2 linked regions of the Homo sapiens genome follow. The protein of the gene in region 2 interacts with the protein of the main gene of each other region in a pairwise test. Each region holds a gene or a part of one and is shown on either strand. Other genes may lie near its edges.

Region 1 (4,831 bases), on a different chromosome or scaffold from region 2:
TTTTTTTTTTTTTTTTGAAGCAGGGTCTCGCTCTGCCATCTGCCACCCAGGCTCGCGCGCAGTGGTGTGATCTCAGCTCACTGCAACCTCCACTTCCCAGGTTCAAGTGATTTTCCCGCCTCAGCCTCCTGAGTGGCTGGGATTACAGGCATGCCCCACCACACTCGGCTAATTTTTGTATTTTTACTAGAGACGCTGTTTCACCGTGTTGGCCATGAGGTCTCGAACTCCTGACCTCAAGCGATCTGCCCACCTTGGCCTTCCAAAGTGCTGGGATCACAGGCATGAGCCACCATGCTAACTACCCTTCCTAACTACCCTTCTCTAACCTCCAAGCCAGGCCAGACCAGTGGCTCCCCTCATGTCTGTGGGCACCGGGCCTGGCACATGGGGTCTCGCCTGTACCTCCTCCACTAACCATGAGCCCGCCATGTCTGCATCACGAGGACCACCCAGATGGCCAGCCCAAGAAAACCATCTTACTCTCCACCCTGCCACGTGCCTCAAATTCTGCCCCTCCGGATGCACAGGGGAAGGGCACACAAGACACAGCTGGGTACAGGTTTATTGTGGCACTGGAGGTGAAAGGGGGCTGGTGTGGCCAGCACCGGTGTGCTGTGGTGGTGGAGGGAGTGGGGTGGGAGGATAAGGTGGGTGGGGCAGGGCCCAGGGAGCCCCAGGCTCGGGCCAGGAGCCAGGGTTAAGGCAACCATTGCCAGCCCTACCCAGAAATGCAGGGCCACGACTCCAGGCCCCTCAGGCTAGGGGCCACCGCGGCAGCTGTGGGCAGAAGGGGCTCACACATGAGAGAAGGCATGGCTCTTGCAGAGAGGCCTGTCCTTCTTGGAGTAGAAGGTCTTTCCTTCCAGGTTGATCTGACATATCTAAGGACAGCAAAGGCCCAGTCACATGGGGTTGGGGGCAGCAGGAGAGGCCCCTTCCCAACTTCTCCTGCATCTCCTGGGGAATGAACAGAGGGCCGGTGGGCTTGGGGCTCAGTTCGAGGGGCGGGGCTCTCACCGCACAGACGAAGCAGGTGTCATGCCAGCTGAAGCCCAGGGCCTCCAGGAAGCGGTCCCCAGCGTCGATCTTGAAGTCACAGCCATGGCATTTCGTGCCAAACATCTTCTCATAGTCTGAGAATGGGGGCAGAGAGAAAGAGGACCTGGATTCATGCCTGCCCCATGCACCATCCCTCCTCACCCTCACTGGCCAGTGGGTACCTCGCTCGCAATAGGGCACGCCCTCCTCCATGTAGAAGGCCCTGTTCCGGATGGGCGTCTTGCAGGCAGCACAGGTAAAGCAGTGCACGTGCCAGGTCATCTTCAGGGCGTGCATGATCTCCTGGAAGGAGGTCCCAGTCACTCGGCAGGCTCAGGCCCCTCCTGCCCTGCCCTGGGTCACGGGAACACAGGAGGGCTGGCCGCAAGCCCTGTTCCTTCTCGCGGTAAACACTACATCTAACTGTTCAGGACTCCCACACCTCCATCTCCAACTCCAAGGTCTCTGAGTGGACGACCACTGCGCCTTCAGACTTGCCATGTCCAGCACTCAGTTCCTGATTCCCTCACCCCAAACCTCTCCTCCCACAGCCATCCCCATCACGCGGATGGCAACTCCATTCTCCTGTCTGCTGCAGCCAAACACACCCTCCTCTCACACCCCACACCAGGTCCACCAGGAAATCCAGTGGGGCCCACCCCCAAGGCACATCCAGATTCTGAGTGCTTCTCACAGCCTCCCTGAAGTGAGGTAAGCCATGGCCATCTGGCCCGTGGGACCACATAACAACTGGCCTACAAGCTCCTCTCTCTGATCCCAGCTGCCACAGCGTGCCCCTGCAACCCAAGACAGGCCTTCTCCCCCTGCATGAAACTGTGTACTGCTTCCCATTGCTCCCAGCAAGAGCCAAGCCCCATGCAGAGGCTGGAGGCCAGCAGGTCTGACCTCGTTCCCAACCGTCTCCGCCACTGCTCTCCCTTGCGTTCTCACCTTGCCTCTGCACACTGGCCTCTTGCCTGAAACTGGCACACCAGGCACACTCCTGTCCTGGGCTTGACACCGGCTGTCCCCTCTGCCTGGACTGCTCTGCCCCAGATATCTCTAGGCTCACCCCTCACCCCCTTCAAGTTTCTGCTCGAATGCAGTCTTCTCCATGAGGGCCCACTCTGACCACACCAGCAGCAGCCAGCTGCCTTCCCTGCACCACGCACCCCAGCACTTGTCGCTCTGCTCTTTCCTGTTTTCCGTAACGTGATCTAACATTACTTCCAGGCAACCTACTTATTGCGCTTATTGCTTACAGTCTGCCTCTCCCCTCTTCTTCCAGCCAAAATGTAAGGCCCAGAAGGGCAGGAAGCATCAACTGTTTTGTTAGCTGATCTATCCCCACAGTGCCTGGCCCTTTGTGGGTGAGTCGACTGGCCTCCGCAGGAGGTGGGAAGGGGCAGAGGCACAAGGGGCTGAGCTCTCCCTGGGCTGGGCTGTTCATCCCTAGGACCCTCGGGGCCAGCCGGGGCCAGCCAGGGCCAGCAGTATTCACATCTGGAGCAGGCAGAGGGCAGCATGGGGCCTCGAGGCGGTATGAGGGTCCAAGATGTGTGGGTCTGGCCAGACCTTGACCTTCTCAAGTCTTGGTTTCTTCCCTTGTGAACTGGGAAGCTAATCCCAGCCTTGTGAGGCTGTTATGAGGATGGCCCTGAGTTTAAATCCAGGGATCCCAGATCCAATCCCTGCAAGGGCCAAGTGGGGACTGTGTCACACGGAGGAGGACCTCTTCTTCTGGGAGCAGTACTACTGGTTCATTCAGGAATGCCTGCCTGGCTCAGGCTGAAATCTAGGTGTTAAAGAGAAATCTGCTGGGCGCAGTGGCTCACGTCTGTAATCCCAGTGCTTTGGGAGGCCAAGGTGGGAGGATCGCTCGAGGCCAGGAGTTCGAGACCAGCCTGGGCAACATAGCAAAACCTCATCTCTACAAAAAGATTTAAAAATCTGCTGAGCATGCTGGTGGGCACCTCTAGTCCTAGCTATTTGGGAGGCTGAGGTGGGAGGATCCTCTGAGCCCAGGAGATCAAGGCTGCAGTGAGCAGTGATCATGCCACTGCACTCCAGCCTGGGCAACAGAGCAAGACCCTATCATTATACATAAAGAAATAAAAAGCAGGAGATCTCACTTTCCCTCTGCCTCCCAAGTAGCTGGGACCACAGGTGCATGCCACCACACTTGGCTAATTTTCTAATTTTTTTTTTTTTGTAGAAACAGGGGTCTTGCTATGGTGCCCATGCTGGTCTTGAACTCCTGGGCTCAAGCAATCCTCCCACCTTGGCCTCCCAAAGTGCTGGGATTACAGGCATGAGCCACTGCATCATGCAGGCAAATCTTCTGATTTTTTAAATTGTTTGCTACTGATTTTAAAATGAAACAGTGTGGGCCAAGCAAGACATAAGTGTGGGGGACATGTAGCCTTCGGATGGTGCATTTCTGCCCTCCACAACACCTGTACCCCATCTTACATCTACCTTGCAACCGTGCCGGCCCTAGCATAGTGCCACCCTTCTCTTCAGTGAGGCCCAGAGAGAGCAACTAGCCCCTGCTCACACAGCCAGTAGATCACAGAAATAGGTTTTCTGCCCATGTCTGGCTGGCTCTTCTCACTGTCTGGTGTTGCCTGTTTTAGAGGAGCAGACAAGGTCACAGTGAAGGAACTTGGGCTTTGAGCTGGTGGGAGAGGGGGCTCTACCAGGGGTGTGGGCTGGTAGGGCAGGAGCCCAAGGCTGGGAGGCAGATTTCTCTTTCTTTTTTTCTTTTTGAGACAAGAGTCTCGCTCTGTCGCCCAGGCTGGAGTGCAGTGGCGCGATCTCGGCTCACTGCAAGCTCTGCCTCCCAGGTTCACGCCATTCTCCTGCCTCAGCCTCCCGAGTAGCTGGGACTACTCCACCATGCCCGGCCAATTTTTTTGTATTTTTAGTAGAGATGGGGTTTCACCGTGTTAGCCAGGATGGTCTCAATCTCCTGACCTCGTGATCCGCCCATCTCGGCCTCCCAAAGTGCTGGGATTACAGGTGTGAGCCACCGTGCCTGGCCCTTTTTTTTTTTTTTTTTTTTTTTTTTTTTTTTTTTTGCTGTCTCCCAGGCTGGAAGGCAGTGGCACAATCTTGGCTCACTGCAACCTCCACCTCTCAAGATCAAGCGATTCTCCTGCCTCAGCCTCCCAAGTAGCTGGGACTACAGGTGCGCCAGCACACCCAGCTAATTTTTTTATTTTTAGTAGAGACAGGGTTTCACCATATTGGCCAGGCTGGTCTTGAACTCCTGACCTCAGGTGATCTGCCCACCTCGACCTCCCAAAGTGCTGGGATACAAGCATCAGCCACTGCATCGGCCACTCTCCCATTCTTGCCGACTGATGGAACCCCCAGTTTTGCTGGACACATGGGTGCCCAAAATAAAGACTATATTTCCCAGCCTCCGTTGCCACTGGGTGTGGTCATGTGACTGGGTTCTGACCAACAGGATGAAAGCAGAGGTTCAGGTGGCAGCATCCTCTAAGGATGGACGCCATGGGGCTCTGTCCCCTTTCTTCTCCTTCCGACTTCCTGCTGGCTGGAAGGTGAGCATTTTGGCGGAGGCTGAAGTGTCATCTTGCACCATGAGTGGTAAGTAAGCAGGTGCTGCCAACAGTCAAGCAACAAGGCGGAGCCTGGGTCCACCAGATCAGTCCCAGACCACCCACCCCGGGATGTTTTTAGATGAGAAATAAGCCACCATTATTTTGAGTTTCCCACTGCTCGTGGTCAAGGTAAACCTCACTAATATGAACATCACCACACA
Region 2 (7,799 bases):
AGTCCATATTCTAATAGGCCAACAGTCATTCAGAAAGATGATTGCAATACAAGAATGATGCTGAGAATATTTGTTTTGACTGATGCTTCCACAAAAGGAACTCTGAAAAATAAAACTCTGGCCAGCTGTTAGTGCTGTAAGCTCTAATCTCCCTTTTCCCAGTCAACAACTATGGAGGGAGGACATGCTTTTTCTTACAATTGAACTCCACTTAAAGGCAAGTGAGACAAGGAGCAGCTCCAGCATCAGAGCCCTTTAAACCATCTATCCCACAAGGGCCCTCTAATGTTGCTGTTTCTTTACAAGCTCTTACACATACACACTTCAATTTTTATCAATTTTCTACAGGACTTAAAAATATTTATGGCCACCTTTCACCCCTTTCAGGGTTACTTCTTTCAAAGGTGACCTGATCAACAGAACATAGGTTTCTTAGAAAATATGTTAACCATCCAGAGCAAATTCTGTATCAAGCAACCAAACTTACCTTTACTCCAACATGTCGTCTTCAAATTTTTTTTAGAATAAGAAAAAGTAGGCACTTGTCCATTGGGGGACAGGGACGAGGGGGAAAATCAGTCTTTTTTTTTTTTTTTTTTTTTTGAGACGGTCGCCCAGGCTGGAGTGCAGTGGCACGATCTCGGCTCGCTGCAACCTCCGCCTCCCGGGATCAAGCGATTCTCCTACCTCAGCCTCCCGAGTAGCTGGGATTACAGGCGCACACCACGATGCCCAGCTAGTTTTTGTATTTTTAGTAGAGACGGGGTTTCACCATGCTGGCCAGGCTGATCTTGATCTCCTAACCTCGTTATCTGCCCGCCTCGGCCTTCCAAAGTGCTGGGATTACAGGCGTGAGCCACCGCGCCCGGTCCCCCAGCCCCCACCCATACTCTCTTCAAAAACTAGACATTTCCTCAACTGTCATGGGAGATGAAATCCAGAAGAGGAACCTAGAATTTACATAGCGAAACCCAAAATTTCTTAATAGAAAGTGCGTAACAGTGACCCATAGAACAAGACTCCATCTCAAAAAAAAAAGTTAAGGGACCCCAATACCTGTCAATAATGTTTAAGAGATATGACATAGTCTAGGTTGCTCTAGAAATTAGGAATGATCTTTTCATTCGAATACCCTCTTCACAAAATAGGTTTTCCTTCTACCTAATGTCAGACATGGCTGGGGGAACAGCGGAAGGTCCAGAAGAGAGATTTAGCTATTCTAGATGGGATTCCTGACTTCAAGCAAGTACTGAGGCAAACGTGAGAGCTTTTAATTTGGCACCCAGAAAAGGTGGTACTGTGAGACAAAACAATTACTCTCTATCATTGAGAGATTGTTCAGGAATCCTAATAGTTTGACAATTCTGTACCAGCTGAACATCGCTAGAGCTAACTCTGTTGGGATGTAATCACCACAAAAGATTCCATTCCTGTGGTTACTGGGAGTCAGGGAGGTTAAGCGGAATGTCACTACATTCAAATATGGAATGGAAACCACTTTCTTTCAAAAACAAACTTAAATCCAGAGAACCATGGTTCTTCTATGGTATCCAGTAAGGGGCAATGGGAGTTGGAAGTTGAGTATGGGAAATCAAATTCTGTGAATACAGTTTTTCTGATCAGATGCGTTTGGCTAGCAGATCCCCAGCAGCATCTATTCAGTAAGGTTAATCTACATGGGAAATAGCGATTTAAAGTCAGCAGTGAAAAATTACTTGTGAAAATTTTTTGAAAACCAAATGACCTACATAGAAATAGAAAAAGAAATTTCTGAAAGGGGCAAATGAGATACCACTTCAGAGGCTAGAGCGACTGTCGAGTGCAGAAAGAGCACAAGATGTAGGATTTCCTAATGTTTTTACGAATTCAAAACTGATTTTTTAAACCAACTCCCACCACAGAAGGCCTCCCTGACAACAAGGGCGAACGCTGTGAAGGAGAAAACAACTCAAGGGAAAAAAATACTAAAAGATGCCACACAACCAAGCTGGTCAGACTTTAAAGGCCTCCACTACCAAACAAACCACAAGGCTGGTATCAAAAATGTGCACGCACCCACGAATATGTGTGAAATATAAAAGAACCAAAAACATCACAGGGCGCACAGGCAGACACACACACTCCCCGCCCACCCCTCGCCCCCCACCCCCCCCCCCCCCGCCCAAAAGCAGGGTGAACAGTTACAGCACCTAAAACCCCAAGCGGCATAGGCTTCTCCGAAACATTTTACAGGGTAACCAAGAAGCGATTTTGAAAGCAACTGAAAAACGTGCCAACTGAAAACAGGGCCTGGCAACAGTTTGCAAGCGTGATTCAGAGGGTCTGCCAAGGAAACAAAAGCCTCCCTCCTGCCCATGAGACCGCACATGGTACGAGAGGTGCTCCAGGCGGGATGCATTTTAAGCAAGGCAGACAAACAGAAGTCTGTGCGGGCGCAAGCGGTACATACTAGGGATCGCTATCTGGCGAGGATGGGGCCATGGAGTTTCCATTGGTTGGGGAACCGCCCAGCTTTAGTTTCTCCAGATATTCGGCGTGCACGGGCTTGTGGCACTGGAGAACCTTGATGGCATCTTCGACTTTGAACCACTCTCGCTTCCTCCCAATGCTAACCGAATCTTCCCAATCCTCCAGCAGCTCCGTGACAGTCAGTACATACACGTACGTTCTGTGCTTGGGGTCCTGGTTCTGTTCGAAGACGCCCAGGAGCCGGCCTAACTTCCCCTTGACTCCCGCCTCTTCGTACACCTCTCGGACCGCCGCACCGCCCGGCTCCTCCTCGGGCTCCATGCCCCCGCCCGGCACGATCCAGCGGTCCGGGTACCGGCTGCTACTCACTAACAGGACCTCGTCCTCGCGCTCGCTCCGGAAGCACAGGCACGCCGCCCGCTTCTTGAACCCCTCGGGGTCGTAGGTCCGTGTCTGGTTGGGTTTGCACTTCATCCTCGAGGCAGCCTCCTCTCGCCTCTCGCTGCTGTGTGGGCCGCCGACGCAGCTGCTGCCGCTGCCGGGCAGCAGCCGAGGTGCTGGGAAGAGAAAGGGCCGAGGAGAGGGGCGGGGAGAGAGAGGCGCCTCCGTCTGCCGTCTGCCCCCGAGCCCGGGGAGCGGAGGGAGAGATGAAGCTGGGCGGGGCACGGGCGGAGGCGGGGGCAAGCGAGGCGTGTCAGTCAGCCAGTCCGCCAGTCCGATGGGCGGCCGGCCGAACCCGGGCCCGCCGGAGTGGAGGAGGCGCTGCTGCCCGCGAGCCCGCGACTCTCCACAGAGCCCACCCGCTTCTGCGAGGTGAAGCGCATTCTCGGGCGCGTCCGCGCTCCCGTTCACGTGCGCGTTCGCAGGGGAGGGCGTGGGCTGAGGGGCGAGGAACCGGGGCGAGGGGCCAGGGGCGGGGGTCTCCTGGCTCCCGCAGCGCGCAACGCCTGGGGCCCACTGCGCAGGCGCTTCGCACTCCTGGGGCCAGGAACCTCCTTGGCGCACAGCGAAATTCACCGCATTGTGACTTTGGCCAAGACTGCCTCCATGTGTGCCTTTGACCCAAACTCACTGTGGCACGGCAGGACGTTTCTCCTCTCACTCCCCACTGCGCTGCAGGAAACCCACAGGCAGTTGTTTCACACAAGACAGGGGCAAAGGCAGCGTCGTCATCATCCTCCCCCACTATCAACCATTCTGGCTTACTCATGGGACCTGGGCCCTAGTGTTGTCTGCACAACCCACGGGATTCTTGGCACAGTAGCCGGGCATCTTTGCTGAGTCACATGATGCAGTTTTATTTCTTCAACAGGTTCCCACCTTGCAGAGCATCTTGGCGCAGCCAGTAATTTAACGCTTTTCTTAAACCCCTGTTCACAACCTGCCTGACCTCCCTGCACCTCAGTTTCCTCATGGGTACACTCCTCGCCTCCGTGTTGCAGCCATTTGCACTTCGATGCAGTACACCTTAAAGACCAGAGCACCACCCATCTAGTAGTCCTGCGTTAAAGCCCAGAGACGTTCTCCTATTCTCCACACACTCCACCCTTCTCTATCTTTCTCTTTGATAAGCACCACTTGGTGTTTGGGAAACCATGCACATGGAGATCCCGTCCTATTTCACAATTTTATTTTATTTTATTTTTTGAGATGGAGTCTCACTCTGTCGCTCTGTCGCCCAGGCTGGAGTGCCGTGGCACGATCTTAGCTCACTGCAACCTTCGCCTCCTGGGTTCAAGCGATCCTCCTGCCTCAGCCTCCTGAGTAGCTGGGATTACAGGCGGGTGCCATCACGCCTGGCTAATTTTTGTAGCTTTAGAAGAGACGGGTTTCACCATGTTGGTCAGGCTGCTCTTGAACTCCTAACCTCGCGATCCGCCCACCTCGGCCTCCCAAAGTGTACTATTAACCACCACAAAACAAATAAAATACTAAGGGGTCCTAAAAATGTGGTTAGGACTTAGTAGTACAAAATGGTTGAACTTCTACTCAGAGCTTTGAAACATGATTTGAATGAATCACGAGACACTCTAGCAAAACTAGCAGACTAGTGGGGTGTCTGGGTTCGAGAGGGGCCAATCCAGGCTCCGGCCACAGGGCAGGGCTGCTTCACAATTGCCAGGTACTGTCTCCTTTGTCTCACAAGAAAGAGGTGCCATTTTCTAGTCTATTCCATCAGTATCAGTTCTACATCACACCGTGCCTCTGCAATAGGTCCCTTCCGGGGGCATACTTGTGGCAGGGAAGAGGAATAGGACATTATAACATGGAAAGAGGCACAGACTGAAACCCTACTGGAAAAGTCTGGATATGGAGACCCACAACTTAAAACAGGCTTAATACAATAGCAAGGGAATTTTTTAATTACCTTTTCCCCAAACTTTCACAGCTGACATAGTTTGGATACTTGTCCTTGCCCAAATCTCATGTTAAATTGTAATCCCCAATGGTGGAAGTGGGGCCTGGTGGGAGATGTTTGGATCATGAGGGCGGATCCCTCATGGCTTGGTGCTGTCTGTGTGATAGTGAGTGCTCACAAGATCTGGTGACTTAAAAGCAAGTGGCACCTTCCCCTGTCTTGCTCATGCTTTCGCTATGTGATGCATCTACTCCCCCTCTGCCTTCTGCCACCATTGTAAGCTTCCTGAGGCGACCCCAGAAGCTGAGCAACTGTTGGCACCATGCTTCCTGTAAAACCTGCAGAACCATGAGCCAATTAAACCTCTTTTCTTTGTAAATTACCCAGTCTCAGGTATTTCTTTATAGCAATGTGAGAATGGCCTAATAACTTTATTATTCATCTATAATATAGTAACAAGGCAAGAAAAGCTAAGACTTTTGTAACGATAGTAAAAATCCTTTTTAAGAGAACAGCATTCCTCTGTCTGGTTTTGCATATTTAAGTATTTCTCCAATGATGAGCAGTGTAATTCAGGAATCACTGTAGTAGTAGATTGTTACAGTGAAACTGCAATTTGTTCGTGGAAGCCTGTATCTCCTTCCACACTGTCATTGTTTCTGGTCTTGGCCATGTAATTTGTTGTGTCCAGTGGGACAATAACAAATGTGAACAGAAGTCAGCAGAGAACTGAAAGGTGCTTGCACACTGGGGTATCCTCTCTCTTTTCGCTCTTGAAACATTGTGACAGCAATGTGAGGAAGGCTGGCCAGGCTAGCTGGATGATGAGATACCTGTGGCAGATTCTTCCCTTTCACCCCAGCTGACAGTGAAACCGTTGCCCAACATATGGGTGAGGCCATCCTAGACCATTCGCCCACAAGCAGAACTACTTAGGTCATAAGAGAGCACTAGCTGAAGATGCATAACTAAGCCTAGCCATGAACAGCAAAAAAAAAAAAAAAAAAGCAAACAAACAAACAAGAAAACCCACTCAGATGGGACCAGCTGAAATTATTGACCTGCAGAATTGTGAGTAAAATAGTTTACTGTTTAAAGCATAAAATTTGGCAGCGCTTTGTTATGCATTAAAAACTAGCTGCTCCAACCATTGACATGATACATAAAAATCAACCAAAAACAATCAGAGAAAGACAAGATTGTTCGCTGTAGAAATGTAACATCTACTTAAAAATGCTGGCATTTCACTTTCCCTGGAGTCAGAAAGGGATGAAGTTAAGACATCTAACGTGTTGAGTACAGTCCCTGTGAGAGGTCCTGTGTTACGCCCTGCATTCTATTTAACTGTTATCTCATTAACTCATAGGGAGGGAGGCAGTTCATAAGTCCATTTTACAGAAGAGAAAATGAGGACTTAGAGTGGATTTTGTATTCGAGTTTAAGGCTTCATGTCTCCATACCCTGCACACTCAAAAAATCAACATGTCTTAAGAGAAGGATTCTTCTTATCCACAGCTATGGTTGTTGCGGCCTTTGTTGATGACATTCAGCATTGACTTCTTGGGTAAGGTATTCAGTAGTTAAGATTCAATGACTCCAGTGAAAGGTATGTTTCCATCGTGATGTTCTTCTTCTGGACAATAAGTGAAAAGAGCATGTGAGTACCTCTCTCACTCCCAGCAAATAATTGTTGTGTCACCTCCACATGTTTCTTCACGATTCGAGGCTTTGATTTCCCCTGCAAGACAAAATGCAATGAAGTGATACAGAAAAAAAGAAATTCTATGCTGTCATCACACTAGACCATGATGTTGATTTATGGATGGTCTGCTTTCTTATATGCACTTAATATTTTTGTACAAGCAAACCTGAAAAGTGTCAAAATCCCCTTTAACAGATTAACAGGCTGAGATGGGTTAAAGTGAGCAAGCCGGGAAGTGGTGGAGCTGGGATCCACACCCTGGTCTGTCTGAGTCCAGATGTAATCATCTTGCATTCACTATGGCATGTTTCCCTTATGTTAAGGGTTGCTGACATAGACAGTGCATGTCATTCCTTTTGGTATGGTCTTCCTCCTTTCTAGCTTTTTTCTGCCTGGAAGATCCAGGCACCCAAGAGAATGGAGCTTCCATGTAAATTTGCAGAATCCCTAGGATGAAAGCGGAGAGGATCTACCCTGAAACCAACAAGTCTAGGATGCACATCTCTGCCTTTTTTTCAGAATTAGGAAGGGGCAGGCAGATGGGCAATTGACAGGAATAGTAGAAGCATCCTCGGGGAAGTTGGCTACTTTACTTAGTGAGAAAGCAATGGAAAGTGACATTTGTAACTGAGTTTTAAGTGAAGTACAGTCCTAAGAGAGGAGCTCTGAAAAACAGCTGTTACCTGAGATTGGGAATGTTAAAGACCTTCTCAGAGCCTGACTGTACTCACAGCTGGACCTAGCTATCAGAAGAGGGACTGCAACATACCTGAGAAACTTTCAGAATACTTAACGGAAGCAGAGTCAGGGGAAGTGATTTTGATAGTAGTCCATGAGAAAAAAATACGGTGTTTTAAAATGCAAATGAACTAAAATTTAAATCCTGCTCTCTCAGTAGCTATGCAGCCTTAGGCGAGTTAATATCTTTGACCTTAGTATTTCTCAGGTGTAAAGAGGGATAATTACCTACTCAGAACTTCACCTCTCCCAAGAAAGCTTTCCTGACCATGTGCTGGCCCTTCCTTTACATTGGGATTAAAGTACCCCCCCCCGTTTTTCCAGGCTTTCTTGACTTTAATTCTGTCATAGCTCTAATTAAGAACCTCTGTAATGATCTGTCTGCAAGCTTGTGAGAAATTTGAGGACTGGGAACCAGCCTGAAACATGTCTGTTCCCCTCTGAGTCAACACAGTGCCTGGGATCTGGTGTCCAGTAGGGATTTAAAGCATATTGATTGAATGAGAAATGATGACAGGATCTACATGGATC

Evidence for each region.
Region 1: the proteins of NUDT10 (region 2) and PDLIM7 interact in binary tests that used the Homo sapiens proteins (3 or more experiments, as listed by UniProt).

The regions. Positions count from the first base shown.
Region 1 is NC_000005.10:177,482,847-177,487,677, forward strand, and holds the end of PDLIM7 (PDZ and LIM domain protein 7), read right to left. Parts: intron 1,345-4,831; coding exon 1,224-1,344; intron 1,137-1,223; coding exon 1,021-1,136; intron 885-1,020; coding exon 798-884; 3' UTR 548-797; downstream 1-547. UniProt on the Homo sapiens protein: May function as a scaffold on which the coordinated assembly of proteins can occur. May play a role as an adapter that, via its PDZ domain, localizes LIM-binding proteins to actin filaments of both skeletal muscle and nonmuscle tissues.
Region 2 is NC_000023.11:51,328,110-51,335,908, reverse strand, and holds the start of NUDT10 (diphosphoinositol polyphosphate phosphohydrolase 3-alpha), read right to left. Parts: upstream 3,088-7,799; 5' UTR 2,944-3,087; coding exon 2,450-2,943; intron 1-2,449. UniProt on the Homo sapiens protein: Cleaves a beta-phosphate from the diphosphate groups in PP-InsP5 (diphosphoinositol pentakisphosphate), suggesting that it may play a role in signal transduction.